3 separate regions of the Homo sapiens genome follow, and all the other regions are linked to region 3. The links come from fine-mapping of genetic effects on gene expression. A gene starts in region 3. Each other region holds a variant in brackets. All regions are shown on one strand. Distances are from middle to middle.

Region 1 (4,248 bases), 36 kb before region 3:
GTGTAAAATGCAATCTCATTGTGCGTAATGCGCATACATGGCCCTGACACAGTTGAAAGCTTTTCTCATTTTCTTTATTGTGGTTGAATCCAATTTAAATTAAAATATGAAATGCTTAACAATCATAAAATCAGTATTTGCTGTGGTAAACAAAAGAGATCTACACTAGTATTTACAACTCTTTAATTTGTTTAAAAAGGAGGCAATATAACCATTTTAACACATTTAAACCTTTTGCCTCTAGAAGATATATCAATTAACACACAATATTCAAGGAAATCAGTGCTGTATAGATATTTTTGGTCTATTAAGGTGCAATTTATAATACAGAACCAACACAATACTGAAGCAGAAACCATAAGTTACAAAGTAGTAACTCTCACAGACAGTAATTAGAACCCCTGTCCTACATGCCCCTCCACATATAGCAACTTACATTCTTCCAGAAAACAGGTTCTTTCCCTGACTAGGATACTTCACAGGTCTTTCCAAACTAAAGAAACACTTTTCCACTCAACACTGGTTTTTAAAAACCATTAGAACTTTTGGTTTTACAAGTTACAATTAATTAGTATTCCTTTAAAAAGAAACTATTTTCAAAAGACAATGTATTTTACTTGTTATATTAACTTATAGTGCATTTAATTTCAAGCAGAGAGATAATTACCAAAGACAGCAAATAAAAAATTTTTTAAATATTCAATTCATTAAATAATTGCTACAGATCAATCTTCTAAAAGCCTTAAACTAGACACTGAGGGGAAAAGAACATTGACCAAAGAATTAGCTTCACTCTTCAGGAGCTCATCTTATGCAACAGTATCCACCACTGTTACACAATTTACTGATATTCAGTTATTCTATCAACACGGCAGAATAAATTCAATTATTAAAATCTACATTCAAGCCAGGTGTGGTGGCTCACAACTGTAATTCCAGCAATTTGAGAGGCCGAGGCAGGCAGATCACTTGAGGTCAGGAGTTTGAGACCAGCCTGGCCAACATTGCAAAACCCATCTCTACTAAAAATACAAAAATTAGCCGGGTGTGGTGGCATGTGCCTGTAATCCCAGCCACTCAAGAGGCTGAGGCAGGAGAATCATTTGAACCCGGGAGATGGAGGTTGCAGTGAGCCAAGATCGTGCCACTGTACTCCAGCCTCAGTGACAGACTAAGACTCCGTCCAAAAACAAAAAAAAAACAAAAAAAAACTACATCCAGAGGAAGAGAGATAAAAGAAACAAATCTTCCAAATCAAGGAAACTCAGGTAAACTTATGTCAGAAGATGACAAAAGGGTAGCATGTGTTCAAGTCTTAAATGTGATTATTAAGTTAATGCTTAGTGTCCCTCTGTTTGTACCAGAAAGGGCAAAAGAAACACCACTCTTATCCTTCACCAAAAACAAACAAAAATAAAAGATAATAGGTTAAAATTAAGATCAAGCTCCACCTGACAAAATTAAGAGACTGAAGGACATGTATAAAAAGAAAAGTGAGTTTTGCCATGGAAATGAGTTGAAGGGTTTATGGACCCATTCTATATTTATATGAGACTGAAGTAATTTTTTCCACAAATTGACAGAACAATGACCCACACAAAATTGCTTCCTGCTTTGCTGCCAAAACACCAGGCAAAAACGGGCCACATGTTCATCATGCCTAAGGGCAGCTCTGACTGCACTGGTACTATGTCATATGTTAGTTTCAAACCAAGTTAATGTCATAAACTGGCAGGCACTGCATCTTGTCAATTATTAGCCAGTTCATTATTAACATTACTGAGTGAATATCATATATGGTATAATTCATTACAGTGTAAATAGCCATTTATATCCTGGGGAATTCCTCACCAAGACTATATGGAATATTTTTGATCAGTGGAGGAGACACATTAAGTAGCTTTATCCCATTGCCCTTAACTCTTATATTGTTCATTTTATTAAAGGTATCATGCAATGAGAGTTAGCAATATAATCACTGCAAAAATTATCCTTA[T/G]AGGAAAACGTAATCTACTTTTTATGAACTGGAATAACAAAATATTAAGCAGAATCACTTGTTACAAAAAAAGCATCACAATCCTATCATTTGAGATATAAGTTTCCATCTAACATCACTGAGAGCTGTGACTAATTCAGTCTCTATGGCAAGGTAAAATTTTTAATACATTCTAAAGTTTGCAATGTTAACTATATTTTCACACAGGTTGAAGTAGACATATTTCATGGGTTTTAATATATGTCAAACAATGCTTACTGTGAATATCCATGAGTGCAAATAAGAGACAGATAAGTTAGTAAAGAGCTCTGGGTCAGCTGGGCTTGATGACCCATGCCTGAAATCCCAGCACTTTGAGAGGCAAAGGCAGGAGGCCTACTTTAGGGCAGGAGCTTGAGACCAGCCTGGGCAACATAGCAAGACCCTATTTCTTAAAAAAAAAAAATTTAAAAATTAGCCAGGCATGCTTGTGCATGCCTGTGGTCCTACTTACTCTGGAGGCTGAGGTGGGAGGATCACTTGAGTCCAGGAGTTGGAGGCTGCAATTAGCCAAGACTGTACCACTGCCCTCCAGCCTGGGTGACAGAGTGAGACTCTATCACTAAAAAAAATAAAAAAAAAAGAGAGAGAGATCTGGTTTTCTTTGTGACACTGAAGCTCATACTAAAATGTTTCCTATAAATTAGAATTCCACAAAAGAGTTGTTGGCAGAGACTTTTGTGCTTTGTTTTGTTTTGTTGTCTCTCCACAGCCATGTTTGGGGGAGTTCATTGGTGACAATTTTTAATGGAAAGAGGCTCTCACTTTGCGGCCCTTTAGAGGCTGTGGTGGGCGGTGATTGCTCACCAGAAAAGCTGCTGCTTCACCCTCCGCTGTGCACAGGAGACTGCGAAATTTGGCCAGCTGTAGAAGAAGAAAAGAGTTAGCTTCAGCATAGAAATTCCCACCAATATTAATGAATTACCCTGCATAAAGAAGATATATCTATAACCAGGAACAAAAAATACTGCAATGAAAATTTTCTGTTACATGTCATATATAATAAAGCAACTCTTTTGCTAAATTCTCATCACTGTACAAATACCTACAGGTTCCAAAATTAAATGTATAAGCATTTTTAATTTGAGACCAGCCTGGCCAACAAGAGGAAACATCTAGAGTGTGGTTTAAAGAGTAAATATTTAGAAATCAGAGAATGTTTTTCAATGTTTTTCAATCTATAAACACACATACATACATACATTTTATGACAAAAATGAACTCAACTATATATGCTGTTTTGAAACCTAATTTTTTCACTTAGTATATATCCTAGCCATCTTTGCATGCCAATACATATCAACCTACATCACTATTTTTTGTTGCTGAAAACTTTTCTATTATAAATATGTTTTATAAATTTTTAACAATCCCTTGGTGGTTTAATATCACTTATTAAGATTTAGTACAGGTCTAAAGTGAAGTTGGAAAAATTAAAACTAATTTTATCTTCTCAAAAATATGCACCAAAATTATACTGTCAATTAATAAAAGAAAATCTTTGGTGTTTATTTTGTTTTACTTTGATGAAGACAAATTATTAGGAATGAGAACCTACATTCTCTAAATTTTGTTAACCATCTAATCTCAGAGTCAACCAAATTCACATCCTTTAGGTTTTCATCAAATACCTGATGCCTAAAATGTTTCTTGTACAGTACTAACCAGGACGGGGGCAGAGGAGAGAGAGGTCCTTTATAAGAAATAGGCAACAGTTTATAACCATGCTCTATGGCAATAGGATCAACCATCATACATACAAGCAACCATGTTTTCCACATGTGATATTTTGAGGGTTTTATTTGTTTGTTTTTTGAGACAGAGTCTTGCTGTGTCACCAGGCTAGAGTGCAATGGCAGAATCTCGGCTCACTGCAACCTCCACCTCCCAGGTTCAAGCAATTCTCCTGCCTCAGCCTCCTAAGTAGCTGGGACTACAGGCACGTGCCACCGCACCCAGCTAATTTTTGTATTTTTAGTAGAGATGGGGTTTCACCATGTTGGCCAGGATGGTCTTGATCTCTTGACCTCATGATCCGCCCTCCTCAGCCTCCTAAAGTGCTGGAATTACAGGCGGGAGCCACTGCACCCGGCCATTTTGAGGTTTTTGTTTTTTTTTTAAGTACAGATATGGGAAGGAGACAAATGTTTACAACGTACTATTACTCATGTTTCATTAGACCAGATCATTATAGCTAAAACCACATGAGGCTG
Region 2 (4,248 bases), 320 kb before region 3:
TTATATTTCCTAACAAACTTTTAACCAACAAAAATATCCCTAAATTTTTTATTTTGTTTTTTTTTTTATGAGACTGCCTCAACTCTGTTGCCCAGGCTGGAGGGCAGTGGTGCGATCAATTAAGCTCACTTAATTGAGCTTAATGAGCTCAGTTAAGCTCACTGCAGTCTCTCGACTTTTGGGCTCAGGTGATCCTCCCACCTCAGCCTCCAGAGTAGTGGAGCCTGGAGATGTGTACCACCAAACCGGCTAATTTTTCTATACTTTTGTAGAGATGGGGTTTCACATGTTTCCCAGGCTAGTCTCAAACTCCTAGGCTCAAACAATCCTCCCACCTGGGCCTCCCAAAATGCTGGGATTACAGGCTCAAGGCACCGTCCCCAGGCTAAATTTTTACACTTTTGTAAAACCATCAGGACCTCATTACAGAACTTCAATGTCATATTCACCTTTGTTCTTTTAAACCAACCCTTGCTACTCACCATATTTTCAAATGCATGTTATTATTTTTTACTTTAAAAGCTTATTTACGGCCAGTCACGGTGGCTCACGTCTGTAATCCCAGCACTTTGGGAGGCCGAGGTGGGCAGATCACCTGTGGTCAGAAGTTCGAGACCAGCCTGGTCAACATTGTGAAACCCCCATCTCTACTAAAATTACAAAAATTAGCATGATGTGGCAGCAGGCACCAGTAATCCCAGCTACTCAGGAGGCTGAGGCAGGAGAATCGCTTGAACCTGGGAGGCGGAGGTTGCAGTGATCTGAGATCGCTGCCACTGCACTCCAGCCTTCGTGTTACAAAGCAAGACTCTGTCTCAAAAAAACAAAGCAAAACAAAACAAAAACTTATTTACTTGTAAAACAAAAAAGTTTATTTACTTGTGAGCACAAGGCTCACCCTCTCCTATGAATCATGAAGTTATTCCCATAAAGCAATTTCTGCAACAATATTGATTGTCAGAGGAAGGGTTGGACCTGAGAATACTGGGGTTTAAAGGCAGACTGTAATTCTGTAATATTAAGAAACAGGGTTGAGTGGTCCCCAACTCTTGACTAGTGAGCATTCTCCGGTTTCCCTCCTGAAATATTGTTCTCATAAATGGCAACATATTGATTTTTAAAAATTTAAGTCTGTAATCTTTTTTCCTTCCCACAACTTTGGCTGCAAAAGCAAATCATCAGAATTTTTAATAAAAGATTTTCTTAACTTAGGACATTATGAAAATTTAATAAAATCCTTTTCTGAAATAAAAAAAAAAAGCTGCATATATACATTATATGGTTTTTTTCCAGGTTATTCATTCTTCATTTCTGTAATTAAATGGGACAGAGAGGAGATTTATTTAGCTCTGAACTTGAATTTTCCCTTTCTTTAAGGGAAGTGGGTTCAGTTAGAAGCCAAATAATTAGGTTTTACATTGGGAAGAAAGATTCACAGAACACAAAATACCTGGAGTACAACTTTTATTTCTCCCTCAGATAACAAGGAAAGAAATAATTCATAGCACCAACTTCAGTGAAAATAATCCCTCTTGGAAGCCAGCTGCTGCCAGTGTCATGTGTCTGTTCAAAACGGCAGAAACAGGAAGAAGAGATTCTTCTTTTTTTTTCCTCAAAGAAATGCTCGAACTCTCTGGGCCTAGAGCTCAGAGTAGTACACAGAAAATCTCCACAGTGGAGTCTACAGTCTGGAAAACAACCATCTCACACAAATGTAGACTTTGGAGCCCTGGGTCCAAGGGTCCTTTGAGTCTCAATTAACATTAACTAATGGAAGAAAAGTCTTAAAGTCCTCAATACCTAAACCTTTAATAGATATCAAGACATCTCAAATGCCATCTGAAATGCTTAAAAAAAGACACTTTAGATTTATAGACAGGCTTTTTCTGAAAATAAAATTGCACCAATATGTATTTCTGACCTTACTACACCATCTGGAGAATAAGCATTATTTTATTATTAGACCAGTCCTCCGGCCCCCCTTGGCCATGGGAAAAAGTAAACAAAGAAGGAATTCATACATGCAGTTATAGCCTGTCAGTTATGGTAAGAATTGGAATAAACAAAATTCATATTTAGCAAACCATGTGTATTTCTAA[C/A]CTCACCCTCAGAATCACTAACCAGACACAAACAATAAACTGTTATTCCTAAATCCAGAAATATAACAACATCCGTAGATTTTTGCTTGATCTGTGCTTCTTAGGTCACTCATGGTGGCTTAATAAGTGTCTTCCAAATTTTTCCTGACCTCATTAACCTGTGGACTCAAATGAGATCAGTGTGTTATTTAGACTCCCCTTTAGCTCAATGACACTCACTACTTTGACAAATTCTGAGGGTCCCTCTCCCTCTCTCTTTCTTCTGAGCGTCCCCAGGGACTGTCTCTGCCAGCTTCTGGATGGATCTGGACCCATCATCTCCCTGGTGTACCCTAGACCAGGGCTTGTGAAGTTCTACTTCAGCAGATGCCAGTTATTCCCTTGCAGCATCCTCAGAACTATTGTTCTGTTGTGTGCTGCTGCTCACTGCAAACGGCCGCTTAGGTGGTCTACTCAGAAACTTTCTCCTTTGGGAAATTAGGAGGAAGCCCCTTCCTCCTCTGGATCAGCAAACTTGTGTGTGACCCAAGCTGCAAGAGCCCACTACATTTAAATACAAATCTTCCTCCCTATGGTATTAGGAAACTTCCAGTTTGTCTGGTATCAGGGTGGGTTCCGGTTCCAGCCCTACACCAGTTCCAGATGCAGACCCTTCTCCGAGTCTCCCCACTTTGAGTAAATTCTTTCAAGGGGCCCACAATTCCTTCTTATAATTTGCTTTCTGTCATTTTTCCCTCTTCTAATTAATTGGGCACATATATATATTTGAATTCCTATCATAGACCATGTTCTGGTTCTTCTCACAGGTGGTTCCTCTGCCATTATAAAGTTGGCCAATGAAATTAGATAACAGATAGGAGGTGTTACCTAACCCTATATCCCAAGTGTATATATATATATGTGTGTGTATATATATATATATGTGTGTGTGTTTGTGTGTGTGTATATATGTGTGTGTGTATATATATATATGGTATATGTACATCCAATTAGATGTGTGTGTGTGTATATATATGTATACACACACATACATATATATCTCCAATTAGAAATAATTGCTATGTGTATCTCTAATTGGATATGCATATATATATAAAATATATATTAGAAATACATATTAAATACATCCTGCCTTTGCCACCCTAACAAATATAGAGAGTAAACATACATATATATATACACAACTAGTTTTCCCAGATCTCACCACCTATGATGCAAATGAAGTTATCTTAATAGATATTCAAACTCTACTAGCTTTTATATCTGTCATTCAAACTATCTATCATTTTACATATATATAATGGGATATAGGGTTTAGAATCAAATCCCTGGATTTGATTCTAAAATTTTGGGTTCTGATCTTAGGACTGCCACTTACTAGAGGTACAACCTTGGCAAGTTACTTAACCTCATTGCAGTTCAGTTTTCTCATCCCCAAATTTAGAACAATTATACTTAGTAAACACTTCTGCTTTGATATTTGAAAGAGATAATACAATGGGAACTTTGTAAAAAGTTCTTAGTATAAAGGATTTCATATGTGGCAAGAGTCCTCACTTGACCTGTAGCCAGGGTTCAAGAGCACGTGAATGTGTCTGGGGAACTTGCCTGCCTGGGCCAGCTAAAATCTTTTTGCAAGAGGGCTGAAGAAACTTCCGAGAGAGACTCCAATCTTACCAAAGGATTCAGATACAAGGGACTTGACTCAGTAAGGAGATTTTGGTCTTCAAAAAAAAGGGTTTATTTTCAGTTTAAGATGATAATATACCTCTCTTTAAGCTCAATCCCCAACTATGCTCAGGTCTCCCTAAACACCTATTGAGGAAGCTAAGCTTATTTTTGATCAGGGCAAGCTTTTAAAAGCTAGTAGAGTTTGAATGATATCTATTAAAATGACTCCATTTGTATCATAGGTGGTGAGATCTGGGAAAATTAATTTTGTGTGTGTGTATATATATATATATGCTTACTTTCTATATTTGTTAGAGTGGCAAAGACAGAATGTACTTCATGTGTATCTCTAATATATATTTTATATATATATACACATATCCAATTACAGATACACATAGCAATTATTTCTAATTGGAGATATATGTGTATATATATACATCTAATTGGAGATATATATATGTGTGTATATATGTAT
Region 3 (4,248 bases):
AGAGGGAGATGGCAGTGAGCCAAGATAGTGCCACTGCACTCCAGCCTGGGCAACAGAGCAAGACTCATCTCAAAAACAACAAACAAACAAACAAAAAACTTGCCTAGTTAGTATATAATACATTTCCAATAGGATTTTCCCAATCTTTCTCTGAAGACCACACCTTTAAGTAAGGATGTGGTCTTCAGAGAGAGATCGCATCTAAAAGAAAGGAATGGCTAATTCCTAACAGAACAATTCCTAACAGAAATACAAAATCACTCCTTATTAATGGCTTTGCTAAGATGAATTTTTAAAATTGCTGAAATAAGCTTCATTCAGGTGAATAATTTCTAACCTACTAAAGAGTAATCAATATCCATTGATTGATTGATTGAAATACCCTTCTTCTTCCTAACTACCATAAAGGCGCAGTTGGGATTCAATGACTATTAAATAACTCCAATAAAAACGACTTCAGCAGAGAGGGAAATGAAAAAAGATTTGTCATATTTTCCCCCTAAACATTCACTGGAAATTAGCAAAATGTAAGATTATAATTATGGCCTTAATCAAGAAGAAATCTGACTATACACCTTTTATTATTAAAGTTATAAATTTCACCTGCTGCCATTTTTAAACTAGCATGTTTAAAAACAGGCTACAATTAGAAATTAAACAGGCTACAATTAGAAATAGAATTTTTCTGTTAGTTTGTGAAATTAAACTTTCTATAAAATTTGACCATTCTATACTGTTTAATCATGTACATGCTAATAGAAGGAAAGCATTATTATTCACAGCCTTAATTTTTTTCTTTATTATGTATTTACTTCTTAAATTGACAAAAATTGTATATATTTATGTGTACAACATGATGTTTTGAAATATATGCACATTGAGGAATGGCTAAACTAAGCCTTAATTTTGACAGTTATTCACTATAAGGCTTTTTGGTGTCACTGCGATTATTTCAAATAATTATTATTTAAACAATCAGTTCAGTTTAACGTAGGAACAAGAAAAAATGTTTTACTTTTGATAATGTGTGATATACAAGAAGAAAAGTGTATGTCATTATTATTTATCCTATTAATACATTTCTATCAATGAATTATAATTTCAGTAATCCTTTGCTCACCCTGCAAGGATGAGCGTGGAGAAGAAGAGTGGAGAAGTAACCCACAATGTAACTTAATTTCCCAGCGAGAACCTGAACCCTTACTAAAGTCCCCAGTAGTAGTCAGCCAACTGCAAATTGCTGTGGGAATATTTACAGTAACAACTATTAGGAAACATGCAGTATTTTGTTTGCCACGAAGCCAACTTAATCTTCAGTGTCACAATGCAAGTTAAGATTTCCTAAATATATTTTTAAAGATTTTCTATGATTTGTTTCTCCTAAGTGAATAGTGAGCTTAAAAGACTGAAAGCGAACTTGTCCTTATTTCACTGAAGTGTGTCATCAGACTTCTGATCTCCAAGCCTGTAATTGATACGTGGCTGTTACTAGGCAAAGTCCTTGGCTTTTCAGATGAAGGTGAACTCACACGTATGAACACTTGGGAGTTTGGGGAATCCTGACAGAGATAACACACACCAACGCTCACATCCACCACCAACAACCCGTCTACCCTGACAAGACTGCTCTCCGCTTCTCGCACTGGGCTCCCAGGAGTGCTGCTTAGTTTAAAGAGGAACCGAAAAAGTTTCTCAATGTGCGAGCCCAGTGTGTGGTCAGCGAGCGCCGGGGCGTCGCGCTAGTCCTCTCGTCCCCCGCACAAACCCCCCCTTGGATCAGGAAAAGGCGCTCACCGTTGTGCTCGCGGTATCCCCAGCTGAGCCTCGACATGGTCCCTCGGGGTGGAAGGAAGAGAAAGATGTGACTGAGCAGCGAGAAAGAGGAGGGAGCGGGGAGGGGCCCGGGAAGGAGCCTGCTAGGGCGGGACCGCGGGGCGCCGGCGGCAGGAGTGCGAGACCGTGAACCCGGTCCGGGGCGCTCCCGCCTGCGTCCTCCAGACGGCAGAGGCGTGCGGGGAAGGCGCCCGCGCCGCTGGCTGACTCCTGGGGCGCGAGTCTCTCTTAGTTTGGACTCGGGAATGAGAGATTTGAGTTAGAGGGAGAGACGGAGAGAGAAAGGTTTCCGGGGGGGATCTCCTGCCTTCTGAGGAGTCGTCACTCGGGAGAGGAAAGTGTTGCCTAGAGGACTTCCAGGAAGTGAATGAGTCACCAGAGCCTGGAACTGCCAGGCTGGGAGGTGGGGATCCCGGTGGAGGCGTAAAAGAGGTCGGTGATGGTCGTGGCAGTGATGATTACAAATACAAAACAATAATGACGATGGTAATCACCACCACTGAAAAATAACTACTTATTAAGGGCTTATCGTGGGCGAGGGTCTTAGCTAAGACGTGTACCCACGTTTTCCCATTAGATCCTCTCAGCATTTCCTCGAGAAACACGTGGCTTAAGTTAGAGACACTATGTAACCTGCCCCGGGTCGCTCAGCTAAAGCGGGCGGGGTCGCTGTTAGAGAGGACCAGCTCCCGGTCCTGGGCTGGCTCCATTGCCCATTCATCCTTTCCTTACCTCTTCTCACTCTGCAGGCTTGTGGCTTGGTGAGTGAGGAAACCAAAACCAGTTGTTGAGATTTGGTCCCAAAATTCTGCTGCCCTCCTGACCCCGCAAGAAGGGTTTTCAGGACATCTGCCCTGGATTCTTGGTGGGCTTGTTACCCTAGGACTGGAGTCAGAACTAGCTGCAGAGTCTTGAATTTCTGGCCTGGAGTCGTGAATGTTCTGGGTTCAAAGTGAAAAATAAAAATTGGGTACATGAACCACTTTCTACGTCCTTGTCTCGGGTCAACTGCCTCATATTTTATAAATCCAAGCAACCTCTTTGTAAGGAACCTAGTAAACCAATTTTCAGTAACTCGGATGATTTGGTATGTCAAGATGAATAATGCTCTTAACGTTCTAAGTAAGTATCAGTTCTTGACACCCAATAATAGTGGTTACATGAATGGATGAATGACTGAATAGACCAAAATTGTTAAAGAAATTTTGGTTGGTGGGTCTCAAATACTTCCCAAATTGTTACTTTTATTGCTTGGGTACACAGTTTGTAACCACCCAATGGGTTTACCTTGCCCACTGTCAAGACACAGCTGATTTATCAAGACAGGGGAATTGCAATTCATAAAGGGAAATTCACGTAGAGCCGGCTGTGCAGAGGACTGGAGTTTTATTATTACACAAATCAGTCTCCGCAAGCATTGGGGATCAAAGTTTTTAAGGACAATTTGGTGGGTGGAGGAGAGCCAGTAAGTCGGGAGACCTGGTTGTTTGGGTCAGAGGTGAAATCATAGGGAGTCAAAGCTGTCTTGCATTAAGTCAGTTCCTGGGTGGGGGCCATGGGATCAGATGAGCCAGTTTATCGAGCTGAGTGGTGCCTGCTGATCCATCCAGTGCAGGGTCTGCAACATATCTGAAGCACTGGTCTTAGGCTTTACAATAGTGATGTTATTCCCAGGAGCAATTTGGGGAGGGTCAGAATCATACAGCCTCCAGCTGTATGACTCCTAAACCATAATTTCTAATCTTTTGGCTAATTTGTTAGTCCTGCAAAGGCGGTCCAGTCCCCAGGAAAGAAGGTTTGTTTTGGGAAAGGGCTGTTATTGTCTTTGTTCTAAACTATAAACTATGTTCCTCCTCAAAGTTAGTTCAGCCTATGCCTAAGAATGAGTAAGGACAGCTTAGAAGTTAGAAATAAGATAGAGTTGGTTAGGTCCAATCTCTTTCACTGTTTCAATTATAATTTTGCAGTAGTGGTTTCAAGTTCCTTCTTGTTTAAATTCATAGCGCAGTCTATATAATTTTCTAAAACAGCAACCTAAGTATTGGCAACAATCAAATTACCTTTCATAGGAAACTAGTTAGGTCATCTGTAGAGCATCCATCATTCAATGGACTTATATATATATATATTTTTTTCAGATGGAATTTCGCTCTTGTTGCCCACGCTGGAGTGCAATGGTGCGATCTCGGCTCACTGCAACCTCCACCTCCCAGGTTCAAGCAATTCTCCTGCCTCAGCCTCCAGAGTAGCTGGGATTACAAGCATGCATTACTAGTGGCTAATTTTTGTATTTTTAGTAGAGATGGGGTTTCACCATGTTGGCCAGGCTGGTCTCCAACTTCTGACCTCAGGTGATCCACCCGCCTCGGCCTCCCAAAGTGCTGGGATTACAGATGTGAGCCACTGCGCCCAGCT

The links. PIP is the estimated chance that this variant, and not a neighbour inherited with it, causes the effect.
Region 1: its variant is the best candidate, but not a certain one, in a credible set for the expression of CA13 in whole blood (INTERVAL, PIP 0.72).
Region 2: its variant is the best candidate, but not a certain one, in a credible set for the expression of CA13 in whole blood (TOPMed, PIP 0.61).

Annotation. Positions count from the first base shown.
Region 1 is chr8:85,279,881-85,284,128 of GRCh38, reverse strand. It overlaps CA13 (carbonic anhydrase 13), which reads right to left. Exons shown (of 7, transcript NM_198584.3): 7 at 56-2,899. The coding sequence ends at 2,780. Among named protein-coding and RNA genes, the nearest start is that of CA13, 37 kb to the right of the region's middle. The variant T/G (reference allele first, on the strand shown) is at 1,997.
Region 2 is chr8:85,566,539-85,570,786 of GRCh38, reverse strand. No RefSeq gene overlaps it. Among named protein-coding and RNA genes, the nearest start is that of CA3-AS1, 100 kb to the right of the region's middle. The variant C/A (reference allele first, on the strand shown) is at 2,100.
Region 3 is chr8:85,243,412-85,247,659 of GRCh38, reverse strand. It overlaps CA13 (carbonic anhydrase 13), which reads right to left and starts at 2,202. Exons shown (of 7, transcript NM_198584.3): 1 at 1,795-2,202. The coding sequence starts at 1,831. LOC105375936 (a long non-coding RNA gene) reads left to right here and starts at 4,175. Exons shown (of 3, transcript XR_929126.3): 1 at 4,175-4,248. RefSeq lists an enhancer at 1,398-1,507 and a silencer at 1,868-1,947.